4 linked regions of the Homo sapiens genome follow. The protein of the gene in region 1 purifies or fractionates together with the protein of each later gene. This does not show direct contact. Each region holds a gene or a part of one and is shown in the gene's direction. Other genes may lie near its edges.

The links. The genes of interacting proteins can lie anywhere in the genome.
Region 2: the proteins of SLC26A5 (region 1) and PALD1 purify together in Homo sapiens (affinity purification with mass spectrometry; one large-scale study listed by BioGRID and IntAct). This does not show direct contact.
Region 3: the proteins of SLC26A5 (region 1) and TBX18 purify together in Homo sapiens (affinity purification with mass spectrometry; one large-scale study listed by BioGRID and IntAct). This does not show direct contact.
Region 4: the proteins of SLC26A5 (region 1) and NAA25 purify together in Homo sapiens (affinity purification with mass spectrometry; one large-scale study listed by BioGRID and IntAct). This does not show direct contact.

What each region holds. Positions count from the first base shown.
Region 1 is NC_000007.14:103,408,208-103,411,707, reverse strand, and holds part of SLC26A5 (prestin), read left to right. Parts: intron 1-121; coding exon 122-288; intron 289-1,158; coding exon 1,159-1,323; intron 1,324-3,500. UniProt on the Homo sapiens protein: Voltage-sensitive motor protein that drives outer hair cell (OHC) electromotility (eM) and participates in sound amplification in the hearing organ.
Region 2 is NC_000010.11:70,481,767-70,485,266, forward strand, and holds part of PALD1 (paladin), read left to right. Parts: exon of another isoform or gene 1-1,298; intron 1,299-3,500.
Region 3 is NC_000006.12:84,744,099-84,747,598, reverse strand, and holds part of TBX18 (T-box transcription factor TBX18), read left to right. Parts: intron 1-824; exon of another isoform or gene 825-882; intron 883-3,273; coding exon 3,274-3,338; intron 3,339-3,500. UniProt on the Homo sapiens protein: Acts as a transcriptional repressor involved in developmental processes of a variety of tissues and organs, including the heart and coronary vessels, the ureter and the vertebral column.
Region 4 is NC_000012.12:112,026,189-112,028,783, reverse strand, and holds the end of NAA25 (N-alpha-acetyltransferase 25, NatB auxiliary subunit), read left to right. Parts: 3' UTR 1-2,095; downstream 2,096-2,595. UniProt on the Homo sapiens protein: Non-catalytic subunit of the NatB complex which catalyzes acetylation of the N-terminal methionine residues of peptides beginning with Met-Asp, Met-Glu, Met-Asn and Met-Gln. May play a role in normal cell-cycle progression.

The sequences.
Region 1 (3,500 bases):
GGAGCGTAGCCTTCCTTCAAGCATGATTTCTTGACCTCACCTTTGTCTCTTGGTGTACTGGCAAAAACCATATCAGATACTCTGAACCCTGAACAGGGATCTTCATGCTTCATTATTTCAGGTCCTTTTGCTGTTATTAGCCTGATGATTGGTGGTGTAGCTGTTCGATTAGTACCAGATGATATAGTCATTCCAGGAGGAGTAAATGCAACCAATGGCACAGAGGCCAGAGATGCCTTGAGAGTGAAAGTCGCCATGTCTGTGACCTTACTTTCAGGAATCATTCAGGTAAGGCTCAAAGATGGGGAAATGGACTGTCTCGTTTGTTAACCTAACAAGTATCTACTGAGTGCTCTTGGCTGGTCTTACTACACGGTGGATGGGGTCAGCCAGAAAAACCCCAGAGCTCTGGGAGTAACTGCAGACCAACTGCATGCCATATTCACAACTATGAGTGACGAGCAAGCAAGCTTCAGGTGGGTGTTTTAAAGATCCCAAAAGCAAGACAAGTTTGACACGGCAGGATTGGTTAGTGCTGGGAGAGGACATTCCTCTCTGCTTGGAAGAAACAGCCAGTGATCATGATCATGCACTTTAGTCTACATGATGAAGCATGCCCCCAGCTCAATGAGAGACAGGGAAGGCATTAGTGTGGTCAGCGCACTGTGGGGCACCAAGCCACTCCAGACCTTCCATTGTTTTCTGTATAACCAGTGGTTGATTTTCTAGCTACTTACCCACTTGAGGTACAAGTTTGCAGTGTTAGAAAATGGTCCAGAGGCTGGGCGCGGTGGCTCACACCTTTAATCCCAGCACTTTGGGAGGCTGAGGCAGGCGAATCACAAGGTCAGGAGTTCGAGACCACCCTGGGCAACATAGTGAAACCCCGTGTCTACTAAAAATACAAAAATTAGCCGGACATGGTGGCACACACCTTTAGTCCCAGCTACTCAGGAGGCTGAGGCAGGAGAATCGCTTGAACCCGGGAGGCAGAGGTTGCAGTGAGCTGAGACTGTGCCACTGCCTGGGTGACAGAGCAAGACTCCATCTCAAAAAAAAAAGAAAATGGTCAAGAAAGAACTTGTATATTTGCTGTGGGTCATAACTTCCTGACCTATCATGTGATTCATTTGTTTCTTTGTCATTAAAAAAAAATAGTTTTGCCTAGGTGTCTGTAGGTTTGGATTTGTGGCCATATATCTCACAGAGCCTCTGGTCCGTGGGTTTACCACCGCAGCAGCTGTGCATGTCTTCACCTCCATGTTAAAATATCTGTTTGGAGTTAAAACAAAGCGGTACAGTGGAATCTTTTCCGTGGTGTATGTAAGTAAGAAACTACCTGACGTTCTGGTACTTTTCTCTTTATTCCCCCCAACCTTCTCTTCTGTATCTCTTTTTACTTTCAAGACTCATTTTTCTTTTTCTCCAGTAATTTCCATAAAAAGGGAAAAATTCATTTATTCTAAGGTTTTCTGAAAAGAGTGTTACAAAGAGAACTAAACCTTAAAATCTCTGTTATTAATATGTGATACTGCCTACTTCACAAGGAATTTTTTGCTAGGTCTTTATTTGGTGACTGCACCATCACTCTAGGTAAAGAGAGAGCTTTTTCTTACAACTAAATCATGATCTTTTTGGAAACTAACAAATAATTTAAAGGCATGAAGGTAGAACATTTCTCTCTCAAAAACTGCTAATTAAGGCCGGGCGTGGTGGCTTATGCCTGTAATCCCAGCACTTTGAAAGGGCTAGATGGGCGGATCACGAGGTCAGGAGATCGAGACTATCCTGGCTAACAAGTGAAACCCCGTCTCTACTAAAAATAGAAAAAAATTAGCCAGGTGTGGTGGCGGGCACCTGTGATCCCAGCTACTCAGGAGGCTGAGACAGGAGAATGGCGTGAACCCGGGAGGTGGAGCTTGTAGTGACCCGAGATCCCATCACTGCACTCCAGCCTGAGCGACAGAGCAAGACTCTGTCTCAAAAAAAAAACAAAACCTGCTAGTTCAAACTGGCAAAAAATAAGTAAGGCTATAAAAGATTTAACTAACATGAATCTTTTAATTATATAGACCCCTTACCAAACACAGAGAAAATATAAATTATTTGCAAGCACTTAAGGAACAATGGTAATAACTGATCATGTTGAAATCGATCATGTGAAACTGATCACAAATTCTAAAAATTCAATGTTTTTTCACACAGTGCAATATAATAAAAAAATCAAAAACTAAACATAGCTTTAAAACTCCCATATATTTAGAAACCAAAAAACATTTCTAAATGACCCATGAATAAAGAGGGAATTAGGAAATAATTAGAATTAATTGACAGTAGAAGTACTACATATCAAAACCTCTGAGATGCTGTTAAAGCTATCCTTGAAAAGAGAGGCCTGTTGCCTTTGTAGGTATTTATGTGCCAGACACTGCTAGGTGCCAAGATGCAGCTGTGAGCTAAGAAGATACAGGCCTTGCCCTCTGGAGCTTTCAGTACAGTGGGAAGATTGTAAACCATTAATCGCATACATGTGTAGTCAATTACAATTTGTGTTGAGTGCTATGAAGAAGAAGTACCAGCTGCTCTGAAAGTTAAATAGGGAGACCTTTAGATTAGGGGTCTAGGAAAGGCACTTTGACATTTAAGTTGAGTCCCTGACTGATAAAAATGGAATCAGGCTTTAGGAATATTCTCTAAATAACAAAATTCTTAGTTTCCCATAATAGCTATTATCATACTTCTTACTCTGAGACTTGTCGAAATGCCTTGTCACAAAGGAAATAAAACATACTGAGTACTCTAGGCATCGATAGGAAAGGGTGCATGTTGTGGGCTGAGTGGGAAGTCTACTTTATTGGGTTTCAAATGAGAACTGACTATATTTGAGGTGCCCAGTTGGTAACCCTAGGATATAATTAAGTGGATTTGTTCTCTAGTTCTCCTAGGTTCCTTTCCCAAACATCAGCACTCTTGACTTCAAAGTCCTGCTAACAATAATTTCTCTCTCTTTGAGCTCCTAAAAGCTTTTCAATGTATTTACCTTTGGAGTACTTTGCTATCAACCCTTAATTCTTTCCAATTGCTCAGGACTCAGCTTCAGGGTTCCTTTTCTGGATTTTATAATATTACATTGAGACATCAGCATATGATAAGAATAATTGTTTGATAAGAATAACTATAAGGCTGGGCACAGTGGCTCACACCTGTAATCCCAGAACTTTGGGAGGCCGAGGCAGGCAGATGACTTGAGGTCAGGAGTTCGAGACCAGCCTGACCAACATGGTGAAACTCCGTGTCTACTAAAAATACAAAAATTAGCTGGGTGTGGCGGCAGGCACCTGTAATCCCAGCTACTCAGGAGGCTGAGGCAGGAGAATTGCTTGAACCTGGGAGGCAGAGGTTGCAGTGAGCCAAGATCATGCCACTGCACTGCAGCCTGGGCAACAGAGCAAGACTGTGTCTCAAAAATAAATAAATAAATAAATAACAACTATAAAAAG
Region 2 (3,500 bases), on another chromosome or scaffold:
CTCTGCTAAGCCGTGGGCTTGCACAGGGAAGGGGTCCCCCACCTGGCTATGCTCAGGTCTCCTCTGCCCAACCTGGCACCTGAGAGACAGCCCAGATTCTAGATATGCTTTGATACTAATGCACCATGCAACCTCCAGCAAGTCAATTAATGTATTGGTTTCCTCATCTTTAGAGTGGGGTCAGTAACCTCTACCTCCTTGTGGGTTCAGTGGGAGAAAATCAGTGCAAAGCATGTGGCCCAGTGCATGGCATGGAGTGAGTGCTCAGTTGATGTGGCGGTGGGGGCCTTTGATTATGAGCCATCCCCTGTGGCCAGGACTCTGCAGGGCTTCCTCAGCAGCCAGGTGCATGGCCCTGGGCCTCTGGGTGAGGTCTGGAGCAGGCTGGGTGGGCCAGGCACCTCTCCTGTGAAAGCTGGAGGGCTTTGTCCTCAGTCGGTGCCCACTAGTCCCTCCTTAGCCCTGTGGGACCTCCATACACGGGGTCAGGAAATGGCAGGCTGGGCGGGCGTATGGAAGCTTGGGCCTGCTGACTGCTGGGCCTCTGGGAGGGGAGCCAGTGTTTGCTAAGAATAGTCCCAAATCATGGCTTTCGTTTCCCAGAGGGCAGCCCAGCCATGTGCTGCCCCTGTCTTGGGCCAAGGCACTTGCAGATGGACTTTTTATGTTTCCTGTAACTGGTGCTCAGCACAGGATTGAGCCTGGGAGCAGCAGGCTTAGTCTGGGAGGAGGCTCTGTTTGTCTTCCGAGGCCTTTGGCTGGGACCCGGGGAAAGAGAAGGTCTGGAAGCACTGGCCTTTATAATCCCTGAGTTCCTTTTCCACTCAGGGCTTTTCCTGACACATCTGCCTCGACCATCTTCCTACCTGCAAATAGACCTGTTGTGATTAAGAACACTGGCTCTGGAAAGAAACTACCAGGGTCTGAATTTCTGCTCCCTCCCTCATTAGCCATGTGGCCCAGGGCAAGAAACTTAACCTCTCTGTGCCTCAAGTCCCTTGTGTAACAGGGTTAAGGATAGCAACTCCCTTATGAGAATGTCACAAGGATGAAAGGAGGTAATCGCAGAGAGCCTCCGAGGCTGTCTGGCTCCTAGGAAGTACTCAGTAAACATTAGGTGCTTATGTTATTACCACGATGTTATTCTCTCAGCAGAGGCCAGGATGCTTGCACAGGACCAGTTGGTGGGAAGGGACCAGCGTGGCATCTTGATGTGGGTTCCTGAGCTTTCTTGGCCCTGGGTTCAGTATGAGGTGCAGGGGCTCCGAAGGTAGATTAAACTCTGTCCCTGCCAGGAGGTGAGTGAGGTACATGCAGACACCATGTCTGGTTCTGTGATGGGGTCTGTGCTAGTTATGGTTGGAGCCTGAGGGAGGGAATGGCTGGCCTGGGGTGTGTGTGATACTTCACGTGGGCTTTGAGGGATGGCCAGGAGTTTGCAAAGGAGGAGGGCAAGGCTTCCCCAGCAGAAAGAGCAGCGTGGCAGAGGTGTGACAGCCCTTGTGAAGCGTTTTGTGTATTTCCCATAACTGGCATGTGGGCTGACTTTGGCTTTAAGGGGTGCCCCTGCCTGGGCTGAAGCTGGGGCACTGATGAGAGAGGCAGGTGGGGTGTCTGGGTCATCTGCACACCCATGGAAGGCAGTAGAGAACATCTTTGGGAACTGGGTGTGTCACTGCCAATGCTTTGGGCTCCCAGGGAGCTGGGGCTTTCAGAAATTCCCCAAGGAGAGAGGATGTGGTGCTGTGAGGGCTGTGGGTACCCTGGGAAACGGCCAACAGGCTGGGCTGGGGCCCATGGGAGGGGAGAGGGGTGGGTGCCCTGAGATGACCTGGGACCCTGCCAGCTTCTGCATCCTGCTGAGCCCCAGGCCCTTCCTCTCTGTGGGCTGTGCCGGCCTCTGTCTGGCCTTCCCAGAATGGAGGCCTGGGACGCTGGGACATTTTTCGAAGATTCTGTTTGGAAAGCACAGAAGGGACTTCTCCTCCCCTTTTCCTTTTCCTGGAATGGAGAATCTCCTGAAGGAGTTAACCCCTTTCCTGCTGGTCACAGAGTGGCCCATGGATGTGTCCCCGGCTTTTTTTAGGATCACTGTTTTATTGTTGCCCTTTCTGTTACACGGGATGTATACATCAGGTGCTGAAAGGTACAACACATTCTGCAACTGAGTGCCACCTTCCATGATTGAACAGGCAAAGAAAGTACACTGAACATCAGCATCTGGCAATATATTTTTTGTTTGTTTGTTTTTTTTGAGATGGAGTCTCACTCTGTTGCCCAGGCTGGAGTGCAGTGGCGCATTCTTAGCTCACTGCAACCTCTGCGTCCCAGGTTCAAGCAATTCTCGTGCCTCAGCCTCCTGAGTAGCTGGGATTACAGGTGCCCACCACTACGCCCAGCTAATTTTTGTATTTTTAATAGAGATGGGGTTTCACCGCATTGGCCAGGCTGGTCTCAAACTCCTGATCTCAGGTGATCTGCCTGCCTTGGCCTCCCAAAGTGTTGGGATTACAGGCATGAGCCACCGTGCTCGACCCCAATATTTTTCTAAAAAAAGACTAAAATGGATTTAAATTGATTAACACTGTTAAATCACGTCTAATATTTGATACTACATGATTCAATATAGCTGAATGATGCAATGATAGAAAATGTGTTTACATCAAAGAATACAACCAAAATTAAGATAGCAAACAAAACCCATATACTTTTTTTAAACAGGAAAATACTTTTGAAGTGTACATGTAACTGCCCATTCTTTTATTTTATTTTATTGTTTGTTTTTTTTTTTGAGACAGAGTCTCGGTCTGTTACCCAGGCTGGAGTGCAGTGGCGTGATCTCAGCTCACTCAAGCTCCGCCTCCCGGGTTCAAGCGATTCTCCTGCCTCAGCCTCCTTAGTAGCTGGGACTACAGGTGTGTGCCACTATGCCTGGCTAATTTTTGTGTTTTTAGTATAGATGGGGTTTTGCCATTTTGACCAGGTTGGTTTCAAACTCCTGACATCAGGTGATCTGCCCGCCTCGGCCTCCCAAAGTGCTGGGATTACAGGCATGAGCCACTGCGCCCAGCTGCAACTGCCCATTCTTTTAAAGAAAATTTACTGCAAGCAAAGTTATCAACCTTCAGAAAATGCACACATAGTATTGCTAAGCATCCCCCATTCCAATATGCACACTTGGAAAATACAAAGTTAAACAAATTGTAAACAATAGGTGAGCTTCATATTTTTAAGAATATGGAAAGAAATCCCATTTTTAGCAGTGTTGTACAAAGAACTGTCTTTTCATGTGAAATTCATGAATTGTCCTTCTGTTGGGATCATACTTCACAAAACCACCATGTTTTTGAAACAAGATTACAGAGTACGAACATCTTAGCAATGTTATCTTATTATTAAAGTTAAATTTTTTTTTTTTACTATTTTTCAAAACATCTCCCTTAAGTATGTAGGATTCATCTTTAAAATTCTTCCTAGAAATAATATACAAAGGAGAGGTA
Region 3 (3,500 bases), on another chromosome or scaffold:
AATTGTATCATAGAGCATGGGACTTGATAGCTTACTTTATTTTTAAACTACATTCTAAAAATAGTTCAGAAACATTTATCCTGTATAGTCATTTTGGTACATATACAAAAGGGCTATTTCTTTCAAGATATGCTTTAATTGTGATAGAGGATGATAAACTTGCTTATAGTCTGAGAGATCAGCAATGGTAGAATACTTATTTCATAAAGTTAGAAATAGTGTGAGAAGTGAAATATTTCCTTTCTATATGGGTAAATGTATATATTTCTCTAAGGCTATGTTTATATGTGTCAGTTAGGTAGAGAATTGAATCAGAGGCAATATGTAATCCATGCTGGAATTCCAGCTGGTTTTCATAAGAAATATCCATGTAATATAAGCCGATGTGGCCTGTGGTAGATTTTTTTTTTTTTCAATTTCAGTGGTCAGCAGAATTGTTCTGGGTCTCCATTTCTCTTTACATTTATATACATTTCAATTACAAATTTAAGGCTTTTAAATCTCTCTGTTGTGGTTTCTGTTGTTATAAAGCTTCTTAGAAGATTTGGATCCTATCCCATGTGTTCTTTGGGCTGAGAGGCTCAATAGCTCTTATCCGTATGGAGACATCAGTATCACAACCGAAGCTGTCCTGTCCTCTCACACTCATGTTGCCACTCTTTTATAAGCTTTTAGGAAGGAACATGAAATGTAATTTTTAAAAGATCCATAGATAATATATTTATTATCTATGCTAATAGATATAATATAGGACCATGCTAATAATATAATTTATTTATTATCTATGCTAATAGATATAATATAGGACCATGCTAATAATAATAGGACCATGCTAATCTTCTCTGTATTGTTTCAATTTTAGTATATGTGCTGCTGAAGCAAACATATTTAATATAGCATATTTAACGTATTATATATAACATATGTAATATGTGTAATATAGTACATAATTATAATGTATTTATAATTTTAATATATTTAATATAATAAATATATAAGATATATACATTATATAAAATATATTTATAATGTATATAATTATAAATAAATGTATTTATGATTTTAATATATCAAATATATTAAAATTATAAATATCAATATAAATATATAAATAGTATAATATACTGTACAATAATATATAATATACGAAATATTATATAATATATAATTATAATATACTTAATATAATTATATTTAGTATATTATGAGATATAATTATATATTTAATGTATTAAAATATATTAGGGACAGAAAACGATTTTTTGGGAGAAAAAGTAATACATGAGAAAATAGCAGAGGCATTTAGTATTCTTTTAACAATCTCAATTCGTCACCTCTTTCTGTCTCTCTTCCTCTCTTTTTGTCTCTCTCTCACACACAAATTAACTGTGCACTTTGCATATTTTCTTCCACCCTCTGTGGTACAGTAAGTGCAATGCAGTCAGCTTTTGGTACATGTTGTGACTAACACAAATTAGTGAACATTGAGAAGTTGATTAAGATGATGGACAGATTAGAGGAGAAATTGATAATGATAACATGCAGTCACATTTACTTTTTAGTTTCCTGGCTACTATTTTTAAGAACTTAACGGAACATTGTTAGCAGATTAGTGGTTAATAGCATGAGCTCTGCAGCCTGTGGTCCTGGCTTACTTAAGCTTCAGTTTAAAATAAAACACAAAACTGAGATAATAGCTATACATAAGTTGCTCTAGTAATTAAATGAGTAGTATGCCGAAAACTTAGCACAGTGTACATTTTATGCACTCAATACATATGTTAGTAATAAAAATGATGATAGTAGCAATTGTGTTATGTCTCTGTTTTAACAAGGCACCATTATATAAATCTGTACTTTTTAAAAAACAACATTTTAAATGAACATTTACATTGCTTAATGTTTTTAAACATTATTAAAATAGACAGAAAATTGAGCTATATTGATCTGTAAAGAAGAATTCCTTCAATGACAGAGTGGCAGACATGATGACTTAATTAGCAAACCCTTTCATTATATCATTTATAATATAGTTTTATCCACATACTAAGATAACATCATATGGAACACATATGTCTTAAGTGTTGCGTGGCTGACTGGAGGGCGTGCACAAGCAATGTAGGGGGACTGCAGATGACTTTTATTTAACAGTTTTTGTCCTTAGCCAAGATGGTGTAATTAGAAGTATGTTCATTAACTTTGTAGAGTTCATTAAGCCCAGGAATTTAGAAGCCAAAACATGATGTGTCTCTTAGAAAATAGGCTGTAAATTCCTCTGGGCAAAGTGGAGATCTGGTAATAAGCAGATGGGATGGTATTTATTAGTGTCAAGTTCAGGATGGCATAACTAAAAAAACTATTAATGGAGATAATTAAACCATTTGTAAAAAATTTCCCCCTTAATCTTGGTGTCTTAGTGAGCAAAAAGTTGGTTATGAGTCAACAAATTAGAATTCTTGTTAAAACTAAAACATCATATATAGGAACCATTTTACTACCTATACATATTTCATAGTATGTTGTGTACCTCCATATAACACAATACAATTTATTTTGAAAGAAAGTTAAAGTGAAAGCATCATTTATTTTTACTCCATTTAGTATGAGATTTGATTCATTAGAACCTTCAAGTAGTGGTTACCTCTGGTTAGACATTCACTGTAGTGCTCTGACCAGGTTAGGACTCCACAGATAAAAGAATAAAACTTTCAGATAAAAGCCACAAAGAATATTAAAGGAGAGACAAAGAAAAATACAGAGACAGAAAATTAAAGGAATGTGTACATTATTACCTAATTTTAAAGAAGAGAAAGCTCTGTAGGAGCTTAACAACATTTAAATGGCTGTTAAATAGAAGTTGGATACGAGTTATTCCTCATTAGCTTTATTGAGATAGAAACAGGATTAAACCACATCTCAGAGTTAAAGGGAAGAACTTCAGTTCAGAGGGAATTGTCAATTATAGGGCACGTTACCAACAGATGATTCAGAATCTTTTTTTCCAGAAATATTAAAAAACAAAACTAACTTATATCTATTAATGCAGATTGAAAAGGAGTGAAGTATCTTTTTTAGAGCAGATGAATGTTCTAGATGATTTCTGAAATTTTCCTTAGCTTTACTGCTAGGATATTAAAATACTTGGGGAATAAAAGAGGCTTATACAATAGAGTCCTCTAACAGTTAACTTTTGACTCATTGTAGTTTTGCAACCAAGTAAAAACTTGCTTGACATTTATATAAGATTTGATATTTTTTTTTCCTACTCTGCAGATTACTCGCCTGAAGATAGATAGGAATCCATTTGCTAAAGGCTTCCGAGACTCCGGGCGCAACAGGTGGGCCTTAGTGAAGACCATTCCGGTTATGATAAATATATTTGATATTTTATTATGAATTTTCTATTACAAAGTAAATGGCTAAATTTACTAATACGATATTGAAATCATTTCTGATGAGGACTGTTGTGCCTCGGAGATAACTTATTTTTGTAGTGTAAT
Region 4 (2,595 bases), on another chromosome or scaffold:
AGCCCGCTGAGGACTAGCTTTCTGTCTTTCATACATTTGGGAAAGATAGGAATGACTGTTTCAAAGAAGAGAGGTGCACATAATTTATGCAGGCAAGTATGATACTTATTTCATTGGTTTTGTGAGTCATATATATACATATATATATATACACATATATATATGACTTGAAAATTAAGATTTAATACTTTAATGTTTTAAGTGTGGGGGGTTTGGGAAGGAAGGAATGTAATATTATGGATTTAGCCTTAGGCTTTAAGTTTTAGGCTGGCAAAAGAAATGTTATTCAGTGGGTTTGAGGTTTGGACTACTTTCTTCAAACTTAGAGAATTATAACAGGATGGTGTTTACTTTGTTCACCTGGATGTCCCCAAGACTCTAGCTTCTTCTATCAGTGGTTGGTCTGATAGAAGAGGTAAAAATTGCTCTTGAAAATGTCCTACAATTTATGCAGTTTCTTTGATAATATTTTTCTGTTTAAATCCCTGCTTCTGTTTTTGGTCTGTTACCTAAATATAGTTCAAGTTTAATTCTGTAAGAGCAAAGAAATGAATTTGATGAGGAAATTAAGCATCCAATGGAGGATTGGTCTTGAAGACCTTAAAGGTGCTTTCCAACCTGCACTGCTCCAGTGAAATGTGGTACTTTTTTCTTTTAAAAGCAACCAAGAGAGCTGGGAATATCTGTGTACGCAAAGTAATTGCATTTTGTCCCTTCATTTTGACTTTCTTAGATTCATAATTTGATACAGTGCTTAAACTTCCAAGGAAATTTTAAACAATTACTACATTACCTGTTCAAAATAAGGCTTGTTGGAAATCCTAGTCCATCAACTAATTTCAAAAATTTATTTTTGATATGAGTAGCAACAGCTGGTCATATACCCTATCCCAAAAGGAAGAACTGTCTTGAACAAGATGAATGGAAAATTGTGGTTAATTCTGAATTTCATGTAATGACAACATATTCTTTCATAAAACTATGGCCTGTTTAAGATGGAACTTTGTGTGTGTCTGCTGGGGAGGGTGGGGTACATGTGTATGGCGTGTGTTCTTGAAATGATGTCTCTCTGAATATCCAAAAAAGTACTGTACTGTAGAAATGCTCTTTGAAAAAGTCTATCGACTGACCATGATCAATCTAGCATATGTATGTTCAGTGGGCTAGCCTTGGTCCTCAGGGACAGTGTGTGACTCTAGTGGTCTTCCTAACCAGTCTCTTGCCTAAAGATATCTGGGACCTCTACTGGCTTTAATGACAAATAATGTTATGTTGAGGTTATGCTTCCTTTGTTATTTGCTGATTTTCCTACTAAATGTAGCATTTCAATTAGATCCAGCTTTCACATTTTGAGATAATTGTAAAAAGAATGAAATTATGCAGAAATGGCCAATATCTCTTATCAATCTGTTCTTTTGGAAACCCTCATGTACTATAAATTGTGTACAGTTAAAAAAATATATATATATATATATTCTTACATGAGTAAAAAGCACCCTCTCCCAGCAATCGTATGCCATTGGTATTTGAAGAGAATTCCCAAATAACCCATTGCTGCTGCTGCTGTTTTTGATTTGTATGGGTTTTTTTGTTTTGTTTGTTTTTGTGTGGTAAACTGATATTTAAAAAAGGAAAGGAGAAAAATCACGACTACTGTTTACAGACTGAAAAATTATTGCTTTTTATACTACTGAGATCCTAAGTTAAGACTCTCCAAAGCAAACATTTGGTTTAAATCATTTATCTGATGTAGATAAAAGGTAGAGAAACTTGTAGTGTTCTCCACATAATGGAAAATGTACAAATGCCTAGTTGTGTTGCCCATCAATTTTGTATATTTTCATAATTTTAATTGTTGAAAATTGCATTATATTTTGCAATCACTATGTTCAATCTGGATTTGTCTTTCATTTTAACTTTTAATATAAAAAGGGGTTTCAATGTATCTACAGGCTTGTTATTGAAACTTCCTACTTATTTGATGTGATTTATTAATATAGGAAGTATATATTCTTCCTTAAGTAAGTGAAGCATAGCAAATCTACTTTAAACTGGATGGGTTAATTTATATAAACATTTTCATTTTAAGTTGGCATTTCTGCCTGGTTCCTTTTTGTTCAGATTCTTAGAAGCCACAACCTTCTGAATGGTGTAATTCATCTCAGTTGTGAATTTAGGGCTATATCCCAACATATTTTTAATATTTGAGAATTTAGAATTTTTATTTGAAGTCAGCTAGTCCTTTTGACTCAAAAGTTAGTACCTTCTGTACTTGCAGTTATTAATTCAACATATATGTATTGAACACTTAAATTAGCATATAGCAGATTCCACTTTAGGCTCTGGTGAGACCCTGTGTCCTAGTTAGTAAGTGAGTAACATATATCCTAGTTAGTGGCTGTGAGGTGGGGAAGAGGCAATAAAAATATTAGTTTGTAATTACATCCTGCTTAATAATGTAAATCACAGTATGTGAATTGAGTGTGTCTAGAGGGTCACTTCAGAATGGGTCACAGGAGGACCTCCTAAGTGGTGACCTCTGATCTGAATGATGAACTGTCAGGAAAAAAGTAACACACATGCAAATGCCCCAAG